Linked DNA regions of Homo sapiens: region 1 is linked to region 2. Evidence: fine-mapped expression QTL. A gene starts in region 2. The other region holds a variant in brackets. All regions are shown on one strand. Distances are between the middles of the regions. Region 1 has its middle 4.4 kb from the start of TKTL2. Region 2 holds the start of NPY1R (neuropeptide Y receptor Y1).

What was found. PIP is the estimated chance that this variant, and not a neighbour inherited with it, causes the effect. A credible set is the group of variants that fine-mapping cannot tell apart.
Region 1: its variant is the best candidate, but not a certain one, in a credible set for the expression of NPY1R in gastroesophageal junction (GTEx, PIP 0.57).

Annotation. Positions count from the first base shown.
Region 1 is chr4:163,473,867-163,482,515 of GRCh38, reverse strand. No RefSeq gene overlaps it. Among named protein-coding and RNA genes, the nearest start is that of TKTL2, 4.4 kb to the right of the region's middle. RefSeq lists a silencer at 40-179. The variant A/C (reference allele first, on the strand shown) is at 5,183.
Region 2 is chr4:163,328,533-163,337,181 of GRCh38, reverse strand. NPY1R (neuropeptide Y receptor Y1) reads left to right here and starts at 4,586. Exons shown (of 3, transcript NM_000909.6): 1 at 4,586-4,700.

The sequences.
Region 1 (8,649 bases), 150 kb before region 2:
TAATCTCCTAAGTTTCAGCAGATCAGTGGGCAAATTGCTTCATTTCACAAACTCCCTTAATGTTGGCTGTGGCTAGGCAAGTAAGTTCTCACCAACAGAGAATGAGAAGTGAAATTTACAATTTCTGGGTTGCTTCCTGAAAAAGAAATAGATTGTCCCCCTGTATTCTCGTTTTGTTCTATTCTTTGGTGGCCCAAGTGGTTTCTGGCTTCAATTTTGCAGATGAGGCCAACACCTGAGTCAATGACTAGGCAGCCATGAAAAGAATCTGGGACCCTGTAAAACCCACTTGAGCAGAGCTGCCTGACTTCCAAGCATACTCTGAGCATTTATGTGAAGGAAAAATAAACTTAAATCTTGCTTGAGCCACTTCCTTTTTTTTTTTTTTTTTTTTTTTTTTTGGTTATTTTGTTACTACAGCTACATACCCTGAAAAATATACTACAGTAGAGTAATAAAAATTGAACATTTATTCTGAACAAAGATGCTGGAATAACCTTCCTTAAGCACCATTCTCAATAGTAATTTTGATTTATTTGATTGAATTTCAATAAAGCTTAATAGCCAGTGGTCATAATGATGACCATTAGTCATCAAAGAAAAGGTTAATGCTCCACATCCCCTTTATAAGAAGAAAGGCAGTTATTTGATATGTTTTAGAGAATTTAATTTAAAATCATACAAATGCCAAGGGTTTTTGGGTTTATCAGAGCAGTACTAAATCTCTCTGGAAAATTTAACCATAACAATGAAATTTTTTTGATAGTTCTTAAAAATTAAAATTTCATTAGACCATGCTTTGAGGGACATCTTTTTAAAATGACACCATAAGGGTTAGTAACAATTGGTGTAATTGGAAATTCCAAAGTCTTCTGGGTTCAAGAAGTAATATAAATGTGGGAATCAGAGGGGTGCTAGACATAAGGAGTAGTGTGAGTTGGGATACCGTTTTCTGGAGAATATATGCCCAGTATAAAGTATTAACATTCAAAACATTTTAAATGCTGTTCTGAGGCTATGAGGAAGTAACTGGAATGAGATTTACCCTCCAGCCATAAACAACTAGAAAGCTAGACAAAGTTTATAAGGTAATAGTTTTCATATATTGGAAAACAGGCAGCACAGGATCGTGGTCTATGAAAGAGAGAAAACATTATCTTTCTGGCTTTCTTCCTAGAGGCCCTTTCCAGACAGTGCTACAGGGAAGGGCATCTGACACACAGCATGGCAAATAAGGCAACAGAGATTGGAGCTCAGGAATCCTATGTTGGCTAGCATTTTGAAGGCAGAATGATTATAAGGAGAAACTGCCCAAAGAGCTCCAGAAATCTTTAGAGTACCTTTGCATAAAGCATACATCTTACATGGCCAGGAAAATGACAACTTGGGAAAGGTGATAACCAAACAGTTCCCAGAACTCACAGAAGCTAAGCCACACTTGAGTCCTAGCCAGCCAGAGTTGAGGGGCCTGATTGAACACACCGGCGCATTCGGTGGAAACCCTGGAGAGATTATGCTTTTGTAGGGGAGCTAAACTAACACTAGAGTAAAGCATACCCTACATTTGCCTTAACAGACTTAAAATACTCGAAAGGAATGAGTGGCTTCTCAGAACAAAGTCCAACACTCTTTAAAAATATACAATAAAATAAAATCCAACCTCCCAAAATAATGTCAAGCATTTAATTTAAAAACTAGATATTCCATAAAACTGGACAGTGTAACACATTATCAGAAGAAAAATTAGTTAATGGAAACAGAGAGACCGAATAATAGGCTTAGTAGACAAGGACTTTTAAAAAAATCTTCTTAAAATATGCTAGAAGGGCCAGGCATAGTGGCTCACGCCTGTAATACCAACAACTTTGGGAGGCTGAGGCAGGCAGATCACCTGAGATCAGGAGTTCAAGACCAGTCTGGCCAACATGGCAAAACCCCGTCTCTACTAAAAATACAAAAAATTAGTCAGGTGTAGTGACACACACCTGTAGTCCCAGTAACTGGGCAGGCTGAGGCAGGAGAATCGCTTGAACCTGGGAGGCAAAGGTTGCAGTGAGCAAAGATTGCTCCATTGCACTCCAGCCTGGGTGATAAGAGTGAAACTCTGTCTCAAAAAAAGAAATTTTATATATATATATATATATATATATTTATATATATATATTCTAGAAGAATTAAAAGGAGATTAATATTATGAGGACAGTAAGATATAAAGAAGAACCAAATGGAACTTCTAATGATAAAAAGTATAATATTTGAAATAAAAAATTCAAAGGATGGGATTCAGAGCAGATTAGACACTGCAGAAGAAAAATTCAGTGAACTTTAAGACACTGCAATAGAAACTATCCAAACTGAAGTTCAGAAGGGGAAAGAATAAAAAACAAAAAGGAACAGAACCTCAGAGACAGAAAGCAAATCAGTGGAGCCTAGGGTGAAGAATAACTGAATGCCAAAGCATACAGGAATGTTTGAGGACGATAGAAATATTGAAGTTATATTTTGATTGTTGTGATAGCTAAATAGAAATAAACATTTGCCAAAATTCATTAATTTGTTGGTTAAATGGATTAATGTTATTACTGTTATTGTTTGTTGTTTGTAACTCAATACATTTGCTAAAATATTCTAGCCAAAATAAAATCTCAACAAAGGGCTGAATTTGACCTGAGGATGGGAAGGAGTTAGGTGGGACATGGCGCAAGTACTAATCCACTATTTAATGCATACAATAGTAGTATCTAATAAAAATGGTTTATAGAATGAATTAAATTCCTCTCATATATTTAAAGCTGATCATACTGATTTACAATCAGTAATATAAGTCTAATACCTTGGATTTTAAAAAATTACTATTGCTATCATTTGTTATTATATTTTAGTTTTCAAAAGTAAGAGATTTTGTTGTAATCTACTTCAAGGTTATTATCTGGATGGAAGGAAAAGCATTTTCTCCACTAAATGTAGCTAGTCTATATGAGAATAAATCCAGCTATATCATTTTCATATTTCCATCATACCCAACCATCTAGGCCAGACAGCAAATGAATATGATAAGGTATCTGAGTGTTTTCTATACATAAAGCCCATGTACCAAGTTTAAAAATCCTAGTTTTTGAAGAGATAGTCAATGTAATAACAACAACAGCAACATAGCAATAGTAATTATACAAAAAAGACCAAAGTTGTAGGTGTGTGGGTGGGACCAGGCACTGAGAATAAAAATACTGAGTAAACTACATTTTCTAGAGCCCCTTCTCTTCTACTGTGAGCCGTCTTGATTGTTTTTCTTGTTTTTTTCCCTGATTACTAGACTTACAGGAGCTTGTTTAGGGGATCTATTTTTGTATCTCCCAGAAATGTTTTCAGTTGAAGATAACAGAAACTCATTCATAAAGTGGGAATATTTAATTTTTTTCTTAACAAGGAGTCTAGAAGAAGCTGGTCTCAAGGCTTGTGGACCCACGAAGTTATGAAGAACTCATACTTTCTATTTTTCCAGTCTACCGTACTAAGCACGTTAACTTTTATCTGTAGGTTTTTTTTTTTTTTAATCATGGAGTCTCACTCCATCGCCCAGGCTGGAGTGCAGTGGCGCCACCTCAGCTCTCTGCAACCTCCACCTCCCAAGTTTAAGCAATTCTCTTGCCTCAGCCTCCCAAGTGGCTGGGATTACTGATGTGCAGCACGTTGCCCAGCTAAGTTTTGTATTTTTAGTAGAGACAGGCTTTCACCATGTTGGCCAGGCTGGTCTCAAATTCCTGCCCTCAGGCAATCCGCCCACCTCAGCCTCCCAAAGCGCTGGGCGTTAGCCACTGTGCCCGGCCTGCACTATTTATTTTAATTTCTTTTAGGTTTACAGGAAAAGTGGCTAATAATTGATCTACAGCGCCTGGCCTTATCCTTAGGCTTTTGGCTGCTATAGCTCCAACACATCCTCTGGTGGTGGTGGTAGAGGGGTTGAAAAGAATGGCTGGGCGTGGTGTCTCATGCCTGTAATCCCAGCGCTTTGGGAGGCGGAGGTGGGCGGATCACCTGAGGTCAGGAGTTCAAGACCAGCCTAGTCAACATGGTGAAACACTGTCTCTACTAAATGACAGAGCAACAAGAGCAAAACTCCATCCCAAAAAAAAAAAAAAAAGAAGAGATCACAGTTCTTCTTGTACTCTCTCCTGTTTACCAGGAAGAAAATCTTTAATAGAAATTATTACCAGCTGGGAGACCAGGCAGGAGGATCACTTGAGGCCAGGAGTTCAAAACCAGCCTGAGAAACATAGCAATACCCCATCTCTAAAAGAAAGAAACGATGAGAATTATTACACCCAAAGCAGACTTTTACTTACATCTTATTGACCAGAACTGGGTCAATAAGTGCTGACTGCCATTACTAGCCAAAGGGAATGGCATTGTGATGCTGGTCCTACATTAATTATGATTTTCTCCTGGGACTAGGAGCTGGGCCAAGTTTCTTAAATTTGTTGCCACCTCTCTCTTCTGCCCCTTCTCTCTCCACCGCAAAATAAGGACTTGTAACTGTGGAAAAAGTGGGATAGCATCCTACAGATGCATCATAATAGCATCTGTTAAAATTTTCAAAGCAATAATCCAGGAAGATAAAGTACATTTTTCTTTCCAGGAGACTTATTGCCTTACACAAGAATCTTATTCTCATTTGCTCCATACTTTAGCTTCCAAAGCCAACCAAATTTAAACAGTGGAAGCAAAAGATGAATTCAGCATTTATGTATTTTATATAATTCCATTTTAACAAAACTTAACAGTTTAAATAAGATTTAAGTAAAATTTCAGCGTTCCCAACTCCTAAATATCACTCACCCTCACATGGCAAAATATCTATTTTCACAAATCAGTGTAGACCTACTCAGTAATCGGTAATTGTGTGTTCTGTTTTCTCTGCTGCAGCTCAGTAGAAATTACACTTATCAATTGCTACTATTTAAGTTTTTCCCTCATAGCTACTTGTATTGGTAATCCTGTTAGATTTTGTTTTCATGTGAAGTACACGCTATAATGAATACTTTTAGATACTATGAGAAAAAATTAAGTGAAAAATTTAAGCAAAGTTAAAACAAAAATTATTGCTGCTTTTAAATAGACTTTAAATTGGGGTCAAAAGTGGCAGCCTGAAGGTATATTTTATTTTTCCAACAAAATGTTTATA[A/C]GTTTTTCAATTTTGAATGCCTTTAAGTGGTCTTGTATTCTCCAGTTTAACACAGGCCCCTCTAACCCTCTTATAGCTGACATCCAAGCACTCGTGGTAACTCCTTATCCCAGTAGGCACTTGAATTTGCCAATCTCTGCTTTGTCTGGATAAACCAAGATTAATAATAAATGAATAATGTTTTCCTATTTGCAGAACATTTTTGACTGGCTTCCAAAATGATCTCTAAAATGAATAATGAACTTTTCTCCAAGACAACTACATTTTTGGCGTGCTGGTTTAAAAGTTTTTGGCTGACATTTTGTCAGCCAAATAGGGTTTGGCTCCCCTATTTTGTCTTCTAAATAGGGGAGAAGGTGGTATCACGTCTTTGTTTGATTTATTTGACGAAGTTGTGTTCCCAGCCATATTGGGTAATTTTGCATTATGAAATTGTGCATACTTTAAACAAGTTGAGTATTCTTTAGTTGAAATTATTTGCTTGAGACCAGAAGTGTTTTGGATTTCAATTAAAAAAAAATTTGGAATATCTGCATTATACTTAACAACGGAACATTCCAAATCAGAAAAATCCCAAATCCAAAATGTCCTTTGAGCAGTTCCCCTGAGTAACATGTCAGTGCTCAAAATGTTTCAGATTTTGGAGCATTGGAAACATCAGATTTTCAAATTTGGGATGCTCTACCTGTATTTATATATTTTCAATTGTATATTTTAAAATATATTTCAAATTTAAAAGACTAAAATGCTTAAAGAAAATAATTAACAGCTTATATATGTTATTTATATAACATATTAATATAAAATTAATTTTATATAAACTTAATATATATTACATATATTGATATGAGTTTTTATATATAATATATATACTTTTATATATAGTATATCTTTCCAGATATTTTACTATATATATACTTTTATATATTTATATATATATATATATATATATCTTTCCAGAGTTCCTTTTACAAAATCTCAGAATGGTTTATAAGTATTTTACACATAATTTATAAAATATTATTTTCTATATAGTATAAAAAATTCACACGGTCTCACAGAATGATAGAGGGAAATTCACACTCACTATCTAGGGTATTAAATCTCCAAGACTACATTCTTCTCTTAATAAAATTGACCTTTGCTAATGTTAAAATTTTTTTATTTAATACTTTAGGAAATAGCTGTGCAATGTTTTAAATGAGTGAAAGAATGTGGGAACTTGGAAAGAAATGTTAAGAAGTCCCATGTTTTTATTCATGGGAACATTGCCTCATAAATCATTTTTGTACTATCATGTTTACTAATTGTGTGGATTTATTAGAGTTCTTTTTGGCCAAAATAATGGTGAGCTACCTGTGTTTATATTAACTACTTTCCTGTCAGCCTGTAGTAGTTTGCTATTATTTTACTGTGATTATTATTTTTTCTCTAATTCCCATCTTCTGTACTACCAGTTCTAGCCTAGTCTGCTTGTATTTCCTCCTCCTTTATTTGTCTAAAAAGATAAACAAGCTTTAATTTGCAAAGGACATGGAGAGTTATGGATACATGATGACCTCTTAAGAACTTCTCCAATGCCAACATTCCTGCAACAAGTCTTAAAATCAGTAGTGTCATATTATTACTATTTATTCTAATATGTGTCCTTAAAAGTTAAAATGATAGAACTAGTTGAAATAGCAAATAACATTTGAAATATTTTTCTGAGATATAATGCAAGAGATAATAAGTATAAAGAGTAACAACACCCCCTGAGTTAGTTGTTTACAACCCTGACTGAACATTGAAATTGCCTGGGGAAGATTTTAAAATTACTGACGCCTAGATCTATTGCCTAGAAATTCTGATATAATTGGTCTGGAGTGCAGCATGGACATGAGATGTTTTTAAAACTTCCCAGATAATTCTAAACTACAACTAATGTTGAGAACCACTGGTCTCAGACTATCTCCAGATTATGTTATTAACCTTGACTACCCATTATAATCAATGGATGTATTTTAGAAACATAGCTTCCCAGACTCCAGGTCCAGAAATTCAAATTCTATTTTTCTGGGATGGAACCAGGCATTGTGTTTCTTATGTGCCCTAATTTTAACGTGAAGTTAAGGTAAGAATTATTGCTCAAGAAACCAAGAGGTTTAACATCGCAATATGGGAAGGTATGATATATTATCATTGTGTTTTTTTTAATTGTTGTTTTATTGATGACAAACCATAACCTTGGCCTGCTAGAAGAGTTCAATGGCACAAATTTAGTTTTTTTTGTTTTAGACGGAGTCTCGCTCTGTCTCCCAGGCTGGAGTGCAGTGGCACAATCTGGGCTCACTGCAAGCTCCACCTCCCAGGTTCACGCCATTCTCCTGCCTCAGCCTCCCGAGTAGCTGGGACTACAGGTGCCCATCACCACGCCCAGCTAATTTTTTTGTATTTTTAGTAGACACGGGGTTTCACCGTGTTAGCCAGGATGGTCTCGAACTCCTGACCTTGTGATCCGCCTGCCTCGGCCTCCCAAAGTGCTGGGATTACAGGTGTGAGCCACAGCACCCGGCCCACAAATTTAGTTTTTTAAAGTAAGTAACTTTGTCTTAAAAATGATTTGTAGTAATAGTCATTAAAAGATAAACTGAGGCACATTAAAATATTAAAGCATTTATTTGACCATTCAGTGATTCATGAATCTGGTAGCTCCTGATAAAGGAGCCAAGGAGAAGGCTTTTATAGGGTGAATTTGGAAGCAAAGGAAAGATATTTGATTGGTTAAAGTGGAGTACTAGACTTATTTGGGTCATCCCAGTGGAAAGTCCCCAGTTAGAAGTTAGCTGGCAGTTTCTGATTGATTAAGCTTAAATTTCCTTTTTATCATTTACACTGATTTGGGTTTCCTTTCCTTAGGTAGGAACTCATGGAGCTGAAGCTACCTCAGCCTACTGGCCTTCTAATTATTTCAACACAGAAATAGTACTTTACGGCACACTGGAGTTGCAATTCTATTCTGCAATTGGGTGGTTTCAGATTTGTTCTTCCTATAAATTTTGGTCAAATTAGTCATTGCATTTCTTTCTATAAGTCTGAGATTCAGATATTTGGTTGCTCTGAGAAAGTCTCTGTTGAGATAGCATTGCCATACTGGTCAGATTGAAAGTGACTTTGTATCCTTTCTATTAATGTTCTGATATGAAAGAGTGATGACTCGGATATAGTGTTAATGCATTAAAAAAGCACAGCCTGACAAATCGCTTCCTATAATACACAGAAAAATGTCTAGTCTTGAATTTATAACACAGGGAAAGGTAAAAAATTTAATTATGCTTCCTAATGTTGAACATGCACGTGACAAAGTAAATACTAAAAATCCATTCAGCTGGGCGTGGACAGGGAGAGGGAACGGTGCACATCAGAGGGTGCAGGCTACTCCAACGTTTCCGTTTCCTCAGTCTCGCGGGAAGCTCCGTTGTGGGCGC
Region 2 (8,649 bases):
CATTGACCATCCTTAGATGTGTGTACTCTTTCTAGATGTATTTGTATCTGGGGAAAGGAAGCAATAGCTAGACCTTAAACAAAGGAATGAAAGGAGGATACTTACCTTAGCAAAATGATGCCTCAGAACATTTCGTGCCATTTTTGCATGCACCTGCTTGTGCTATTATGTAGGTGTACAAAAAAAAAACACTTTCTCCTATTTATTTGTTTATTTATTTAGAGATGCAGTATCACTCTGTTGCCCAGGCTGGAATGCAGTGGTGCAATCTCAGCTCACTGCAACCTCTGCCTCCCAGATTCAAGTGATTCTCCTGCTTCAGCCTCCCGAGTAGCTGGAATTACAGGCACATGCCACCATGCCTGGCTGATTTTTATATTTTTAGTAGAGACAGGGTTTCACCTTGTTGGCCAGGCTGGTCTCGAACTCCTGACCTCAGGTGATCCACCCGCCTTGACCTCCCAAAGTGCTGAGATTACAGGCATGAGCCACTGCACCCAGTCTTTCTCCTTTCTTTAGAAAAAATTATACCTTCATAGCTTTTCTTCATAGGCAAAGTCTGATCTATTGACATTGGCCATCTGAAGTGTTGTGCTGTGAGAAAGTCTAATACCAAGCTTGAGATTTTGGGGAGCGGGAGTCAGGGGCAAGACGACCAAGTAGAGATGTTTGTCACAGATGATGAGAGCTGTTGTGGTGGCATTCATACTTATTCTTTTTGCCAGCTATTTTTATTTTGTCTCTTCAAAAGAATATATGAAGGGAATAGTAATAATAATTATTAAAAACAGTAATAGTAACAGTGGCAAAGCTCCTTTCATTATATCATATAGTAAAAACATAATGTTATGGTTTTGTAATATAACATTACACTTTTTTTTGAATGTCTAAAGGGTATCTGAAAGTATAAGGCATGCAGAAAAAGATTTGGCTATTTACTAAATTTTAAGATCCTACTTGTCTAGAGCCTTATTGTGACAGAGTTTTTAAAAATGCCCCGAAATATGCAGCCCATGTAACAAAATGAGAACTTTACTGAAAGGCATTCACATTTCAAATCAAGATCAAGAGAAAATCCACAAATAGTATTGTGTGTTTTCTGCACAAAGGAGATCATTGAATTGTCTGTGCACTTGTATACTCACATTTTTAACTAAATTAATCATCACTTTTTTTCTGCTAGTTAATGCTCTCCAAAAGTCAGATGAATAAAATGATTGTACTGACTATTTGATTGTGCTGATTAAGTCAAAACTCTTTACCAACTATATTTCATTGGCTTTAAAATGTGGGCTTAAAAAGCATTTTAATATTTTAATATTCATTTGCTATTGATGGTATGCCATTGCTTTACTGAAAGCATTTTTTTCTTGGTGGTCCATAAAATAAAATTGTGCTTTACATTCTTGGGCGTCAAAGATCCAAAGAAATGCAGCAGGTAAGTCACAGAAAGAAGGAAAATCCTGACACAAAATCAATTCATAGAATATGAACTGATTCACTGACGTGCTTCATCATAGTTCTACCCCCATGGAATTACCCCCTTATCAATGTCATATACATTTCAGTTTTCTCGTGTAGTATTAATGCCTATTAAGTTTCTTCTGAGTGACAATTCATGGTAATTTACCTGTATCAAGGCCTGATAGCATTTCAGAAACTTTAACTCTTGTAGCAGAAATTCCTCAGAAGACTAGTAATTAGTGTGTTTCAATTCCAGTAGCAAGCATACTGTCACACTTTTATTTAAGCAGTTACTGAATCATGGAATTTAAAGGCTGAGCCAGGCCATAAGTTTGTTCCATTGTTTAGAATACAAAACTTAGATTTACAGAAATTTAATGAGTAGATCCTATCCCTCAGTTTATATCACAGAGCAAGACTGTTGTTCAAGAGAGCATGAGATTAGGTCATTAACATAATTCCCCTTGGTTTATAGGTCAGGCTGTTATGAAACTACAGAAAGAAATACACAGAAATAAAGAAAAAATTCTCCCTAGCAAAGATGAAGTTTTATCTAGTTTGAATCCCAGATAGGAAAGTAGGCAGCTGATTATTCACTGAAGAGTAGAAAAATATATGATCTTAAAATTGGAATGAGGAAACTCTTTAATAAGTATTTTCTAAGAAATTCAAACTACTTTGCATATTTTAAATCTTCTATAAGATTACATTATTGGAGAATTTTATGTTGTGTTTGGCCATTGGACCATGTCTAATTTCTCTATTTTTCACATTGGAAAGAATCCTAGTAAATGGTATTCCTAAAGAATTATATAATTTTGCTGTTGAGCATTTCTTTTTTTTTTTTTTTTTTTTTCCAAAACAGAGTCTTGCTCTGTTGCCCAGGCTGGAGTGCAGTCGTGCGATCTCGGCTCACTGCAACCTCTGCCTCTTGGGTTCAAGCAGTTCTCCTGCCTCAGCCTCCTGAGTAGCTGGGATTACAGATGCGCACCACCACACCTGGCTAATTTTTGTATTTTTAGTAGAGACGGGGTTTCACTATGTTGGCCAGCCTGGTCTCGAACTCCTGACCTCATGATCCACCTGCCTAGGCCTCCAAAAGTGCTGGGATTACAGGCGTGAGCCACCGCCCCCAGCCACTGTTGAGTATTTCAGAACTTCTCTTTGTATCATAAAGTTGTCATAGAAAAGAGTCCTTGAGACCAATGATCTTTCAAAGATTGGTATCTGACATTAATAACTCAAGAATGCAGTTTCACAAATTTTCCTTAGGGAGAACACTTCATAAAAATTGAGTTAATAAAATGATAAAATACAATGGCCATAATAGTTCAGAACTCTGGCAGACATGCCTTTATTAGTATTCTTGGGAAATAGAGAAAGCATAGTACCTGAGTCCAAATTATATTCTCAAGTCCAAAATATTTGCTGACATAATAATAGTTTCTACATAAAAATATATTCTTAGTAGAGAATTAAATTACTTCATTTGTAATTCTTATAGCAGGCTAAAGATAGCCAATTTGATGATCAAAACCATGGGGAAAACTTCCTTCTAAGAACAGAATGTGACTTAAGGCAATAGAGTAGACAGAGGATGCATAGAAACCTGAATGAATATTAGTTATTCTTCCCTGAAAGAGTTGAAATTCCTAAATTGTGCCTTGGTAAAAATTATTGTGCCTTGGTTAAAAAAAAAAGTATGTGTGTGTATATGTGTGTGTGTGTATAAATGAATCTGTTGTCATTTTACTCTGCTTAACCATTAGAGATTTTTATATGTATGCTTATATCTGTTGTTATACACTAATAGTACAATCATTACATAATCATGACATTTTAATTCTTAATTACAATGCCTTTCCAACTATATAAAAATATGTCTAGTGACACATATTTTGGAAAGCTTTCTTGGAAAAACATCCAGAGATTGTGTTCATCACTATCTATATAAATGAGCTTATACTGAACCTTAAATATGTTTATTCAGCCTAACAATCAGAAAAAGAAAACGTTTTTTAACAGTATAAAGTTCAGATGAGTCCACTTGTCTTGGAATTTTATTTTGATTTTAATTAGAAGAAAGACTGCCATTAGAATTGTTTTCTAATGAAATCTTTATAAATTCTCTGGGCAGTGCCCTGTATCTTTATTAGAAAGACTTCTTATTTTTAACAATTTTATTTGGAAGAAGTTCTACTCATTTGCATCAGTTCATCGTCTACATAATTTGTGTGTGTGTGTGTGTATGTGTGTGTTTACAACTTTGACTTTTGAAACTAGAATAGAATCAGGTAAAACATCTAAGATCAGTGTGCCAGTAATTGGCCTGAATCATCGGGCACCATGATGGGTTTGGCCGCCTTCAACGTACTCGGTGTACATTCTATTTTTTTCTTCATAATGTTCAGTACTGTAGTACTAATCACCGAGAAAATTGCATTGACGCTTTTCGACCACCAGGGAAATATTCAGCTCATGGTTCTCCCCTAAAAAAACTAAAAAGCAGCTAAGCGCTGGGAACAAATCTGACTTAATGCATTTTCTCAGTGGGCCAAAGAAAGGAGGGCCGATTGACTGCTTTGACTTTTTAAAGGTCTTCTCTTTGTTCACTTATAAAGTGAGGAAAACAAATTCTCGGCACTGGCGTGAGAGTTATTTGAGCGTCACAAAAGAAAGCAAAAGAAAATATTAGTGCCATTATTGTGGCGAATTTCATGTTTCCCAGCGAGCCCTTTGATTCCTGGTTTGGGCTGGCGCTCGAGCTCTCCAGCCGGGTATGACTTCGGCCACAAGATGGCACTGACCTGCAAACAAAGAAAAGCACAGTGGCACCGACTTTTTCAAGCCTCGGGAAACTGCCCTGCCTTCCCCGGAGTCGAGGACTGTGGGGATTAGGGCTTCCTTTCCCCTGCGCGGGAGGTCTGTGTCGAATAATGTGTGGCTTCTGTTGGATTGCTTTTCTTTCCAAAATTCCTAGGCAATGCTTCCCCGAGGTGTGCACCTTTGTGAGGTGTTTGTGGGGTTGGGGGAGCTTCAGGCGCTACTCGCGGGACGCCGTCACGTGATCCGGGATGAGGTGGAGTTCGGCTTTAAGGAGGCGTCTCTTCCTAGCTTCATCAATCTTTAGGATCTGAGCAGGAGAAATACCAGCGGATCTTCCCCACTCTGCTCCCTTCCATTCCCACCCTTCCTTCTTTAATAAGCAGGAGCGAAAAAGACAAATTCCAAAGAGGGTAAGTTGCGAGTTTATGCCTTTCCAGAGACTTCTGCGAAATCTCTCATTGACAAGGTGAAGGATGAGAGGGGAAGAAAAACGATGCGAGTGTCCGAAACTGGCTCTGGGGGACCAAGGTGGGGTCTCCAGTGCAGGCAGGTCGCAGGTTGCTCCAAATCACCGGACCGTTCGCGGGCTCCTGCCGAAGGGTATGGGGACGACGCGGGTGAAAGGAGAGGGTACCCTACGCGGAGTTCGGGCTTTCCCACCACCTGCTCCCGGGGAATTTCTGGATGGGGATCCAAGTTTTCCTTTACCCCGGTTCTCTTTAAAAGGCCGAGGCACTGGGAAGGCGCCCGAGTTCGCCTATCCCACACCCGCTCATTTTCCTTACGTGTCTTGAGCTGGCTGGAGGCGCTGGCTCTGGCCGCACCGGAGTTTTCGCGGAGTAACTGGCTGGGATGAGCCGGAGAAGGGTGGGCTTGGCGCGTCGCCCAGCGTCGCACGGGTCCCGCGGCAGGTGTCGGGCTGGGAGCTGGCGGAGGTGGGAGTAGCCCTCGGCGCGGACCCCAGCGCGCAAGCCCACCCCCACTTGCGGGTTCCGCGCTTCTCGGCTGCAATCGAGCCGCGCTCCGCAGTACCGGGCGCTTCGAGTGTGGCGCTGCGCCCCGATAGACACCCGAAGCTTTTAATCATCGGAGTTCTAATCAGGGAACTCTTTAGCTCTTTCTTTTAGAAAAGTAATGATGGAACGTGGCTGGGTTAGGAGATTGGGAATGGACAGGAGGTGGAGGTGTCTTGATAGGGTGTGCCATTGGTTCCCAGGTAGACTGGAGAGATAAGAATGTTTTAAGGTCTGATGTTGGGCCAAAGAGAGAGAATTGACTTCGGTTTGGGATCTGCTTGGTTTTGGTTGTTTATATCTTTTCTCTTTTGCCAGTCTCTTATCACTGGTAGAAAGGTTTTTTGATGAGAGAGAGAGAGAGAGTGAGAGTGTGTGTATGTGTGTGTAGTAGGGAGTCAGGAATGGAGTAAATTTCGGGCGATTCACCTAGTTACGCAATATGAAAAAGGTGGGTGGGTAAGCGTGCCAACAGGAATTTTGACTGAACATGTCCCATTTCCCATTTCGTTGTTTGATAACTTCTGGAGCACAGGAAAAACCTAGGGGAGAGGAGCAAAAGAGAGTGTGTTTCCATGTACACACACTCACACTCACACACACACAGAGCACGCATTGCTTCCCCCACTCCCCATCCTATGAGAAAGCATGACGGGCGGGATGGCACACACAGGCAGGGGACATGTGGAGCTTGTCTGTCAGGTCTGGAACAGAAAAGCAGTAGCTGTTTGTTCTCGACCCTGGGCCGGCTCTCTGGCGAAGCAAGCGAGGGAGCAGAAAGCTAACCCGACCAGGTTCCCCACCCAGGACTAGACCGAGTGCTCTTCCGTGACTACTACTTTATTAGTCTTTATTGTCTTAAGGCAGCAGTCTGTTGAACAAGCCCTCCCCAGCAAGGAAGGAGCAGAGAATTATGTAATTCATTTAGATAAGCTAGCAGTAACTTTGGGAGGCTGTATGTAACAAGGCTGACATTTCTTTTCCAACACAAGTGAGGTGAACAGCCAGCCAATCCTGAGTATTTGAAAAAATGTATCTGCAGCAGGTTATGATCAGGGAGCTGTATTTTCAAGTAGTAACAGCACTGCGAAGAGCAAGCAATGAAAGGCCAGCATTCTAATTGGAAAGAAAGAAGAGGAAATTTCCCTCTGCAAGGGGGCTAATTTGCCAACTGGTGATGTATGTAATGTCTGTTTTGTCTCTATATGCACATGGCAGCTACACTGAGATTTAACAGTCTTTAATTTTTGCAGTTTCTGCAGTTGCATAGCTTATTTTACAAATTATATTAGAATAGTAAATATCAAATTATTTTCTTTTGCAAAGATAAAGTGTGTAAATTCTCTCTTAGTATTGTTATTTTCTGACAGTTATTCTTTCTTGAAATTACACTAAGGTAAACTGAAAATACACATTTATCCAATGCAGAATTGGTTTACACAACTGGAATAACTATCAAATGTGCACTTAGTAAAATAGGCTTGAAAACACCTTAAAAAAATAAACTTTTCATTTTCTCTATAGCTAAATTAACTTCTACCTAGTAAGAAAAATGCTTCCTCATTGGGCATGCCTATTAAATACAATTTCAAAGGTATCAGGCTAGAGCTTCAGTACGTTTACCTGAACTCATCTGTAAGAAAGCTATGTTTGTAGCCTGTACTTTGCAATAATTTAATGTCTGTGTGAATTCTTATATGTATTCATTTTTGCCAAAATCAGTCAGTGGATAGAATATTTCTGTTTCTTTTTCTCCATGGTATACATCTTGGTCTCTGTCCCTATTATTTCTCGCCAAAATTATTGCACTAGCTTTCTAATGAATCTCCCCATTTCTTCTCTTTCCTTGAGTGTGTTGAAAACAGCAGCGAGAATAGTAATTTTAAATCAAAAGTCATAAAACTTCACACCTTTGCCAAAGACTCTCCAGAGGCTCCCCAGCTCTCTCAGGATTATAGGCACAGACCATAAAAAAAAAAGGCTCTACAGTCTGTACCCCCCTCTTTAGCCTTCCTAATTAATTTCCTAAGAGTCCCTCCCTTATTTATCCTACTTCTTATTGCTACTTAGCACACCAGTTACACATGGGCCTTAGGGATTTTTGTTCTTTCCATATGGGATGCAATCCCTGAGATACTTGCATAGCTTCCCTACTCACCACTCCTCTCAGGTCTTAACTTACATGCCTTCTTCTCAGACAGTCAGAGGCCATCTTTTACAGTCAAGTAATAAATTGCAGCTCCCCCAAATCCCAGTTTCTCTTTCTTTTTTTTTTTTTGAGACGGAGTCTTGCTCTGTCACCCAGGCTGGAGTGCGGTGGCCTGAACTTGGCTCACTGCAACCTCTGCCTCCCAGGTTCAAGCAATTCTCCTGCCACAGCCTCCCGAGTAGCTGGGACTACAGGTGTGCTCCACTCCGCCTGGCTGATTTTTGTATTTTTAGTAGAGACAAGGTTTCACCATGTTGGCCAGGCTGATCTCAAACTCTTGACTTCAGGTGATCCGCCTCGGCCTCCCGAAATGCTGGGATTACAGGTGTGAGCCACCTCGCCCGGCCCCAGTCCCTCTTTCTTGCTTTGTTTTACTTCATAATATGTATTATCATCTAGCATACTATATCTTTTACTAATTTTTTTCTTGTCTTTCTCTGCCCACAAGACTAGAAACACAGTGAGAAGGTCACATTATCTCCAGTAAAACCATGCCTAACACAAAATAAATGTTTAATTAATATTTGTTGAATGAATAAATTTTCTTTCAGAAATAATATTTTTATATAAAGTGTAACATTTTCCCCTATATACATGACCTAGGAGTACGGCTGTTGTGATTAGCATACATTTTGCCTGTTCAAGGACTATGATGGAATTGAGCTATTGATGTTAGGATTAATTTACCCAAGAACCTACTATTCCAACCATGCATCAGTTATATCAGTCAACACAGTTTTATTCTAAGTCTAATACTTGCAAGGTACTATGAAGTATGCACAATGCCTACCTCAAAGATGTTATATTAAAAATGAGAGGAGCCAACTAAGGATTCTAGGGACTAAATGGTGCTTTGAAAGATGGGTAGAGTTTGGATTGGTGGTGGGAGAGAGAGAACACCCAGCAAGAGGAATGGCGGAGGTGGAGACGCAGAGCTATATTTGGTAGACTGTGAACAGACTCACCTGCCTAGAGCAGTGTATTCACATTGGGATTATTAGAGTAAAGTGTGGACAAGAGGTATAATGCAGAGGTCTTAATGTGTCAGGCTGGGGAATGTACTTAGTATTCTGTCTCTCATGTGTCTCAAACCAGGGTCCTCATTCACCTGTTGGTACTTGGTGACAAGGATAAAAA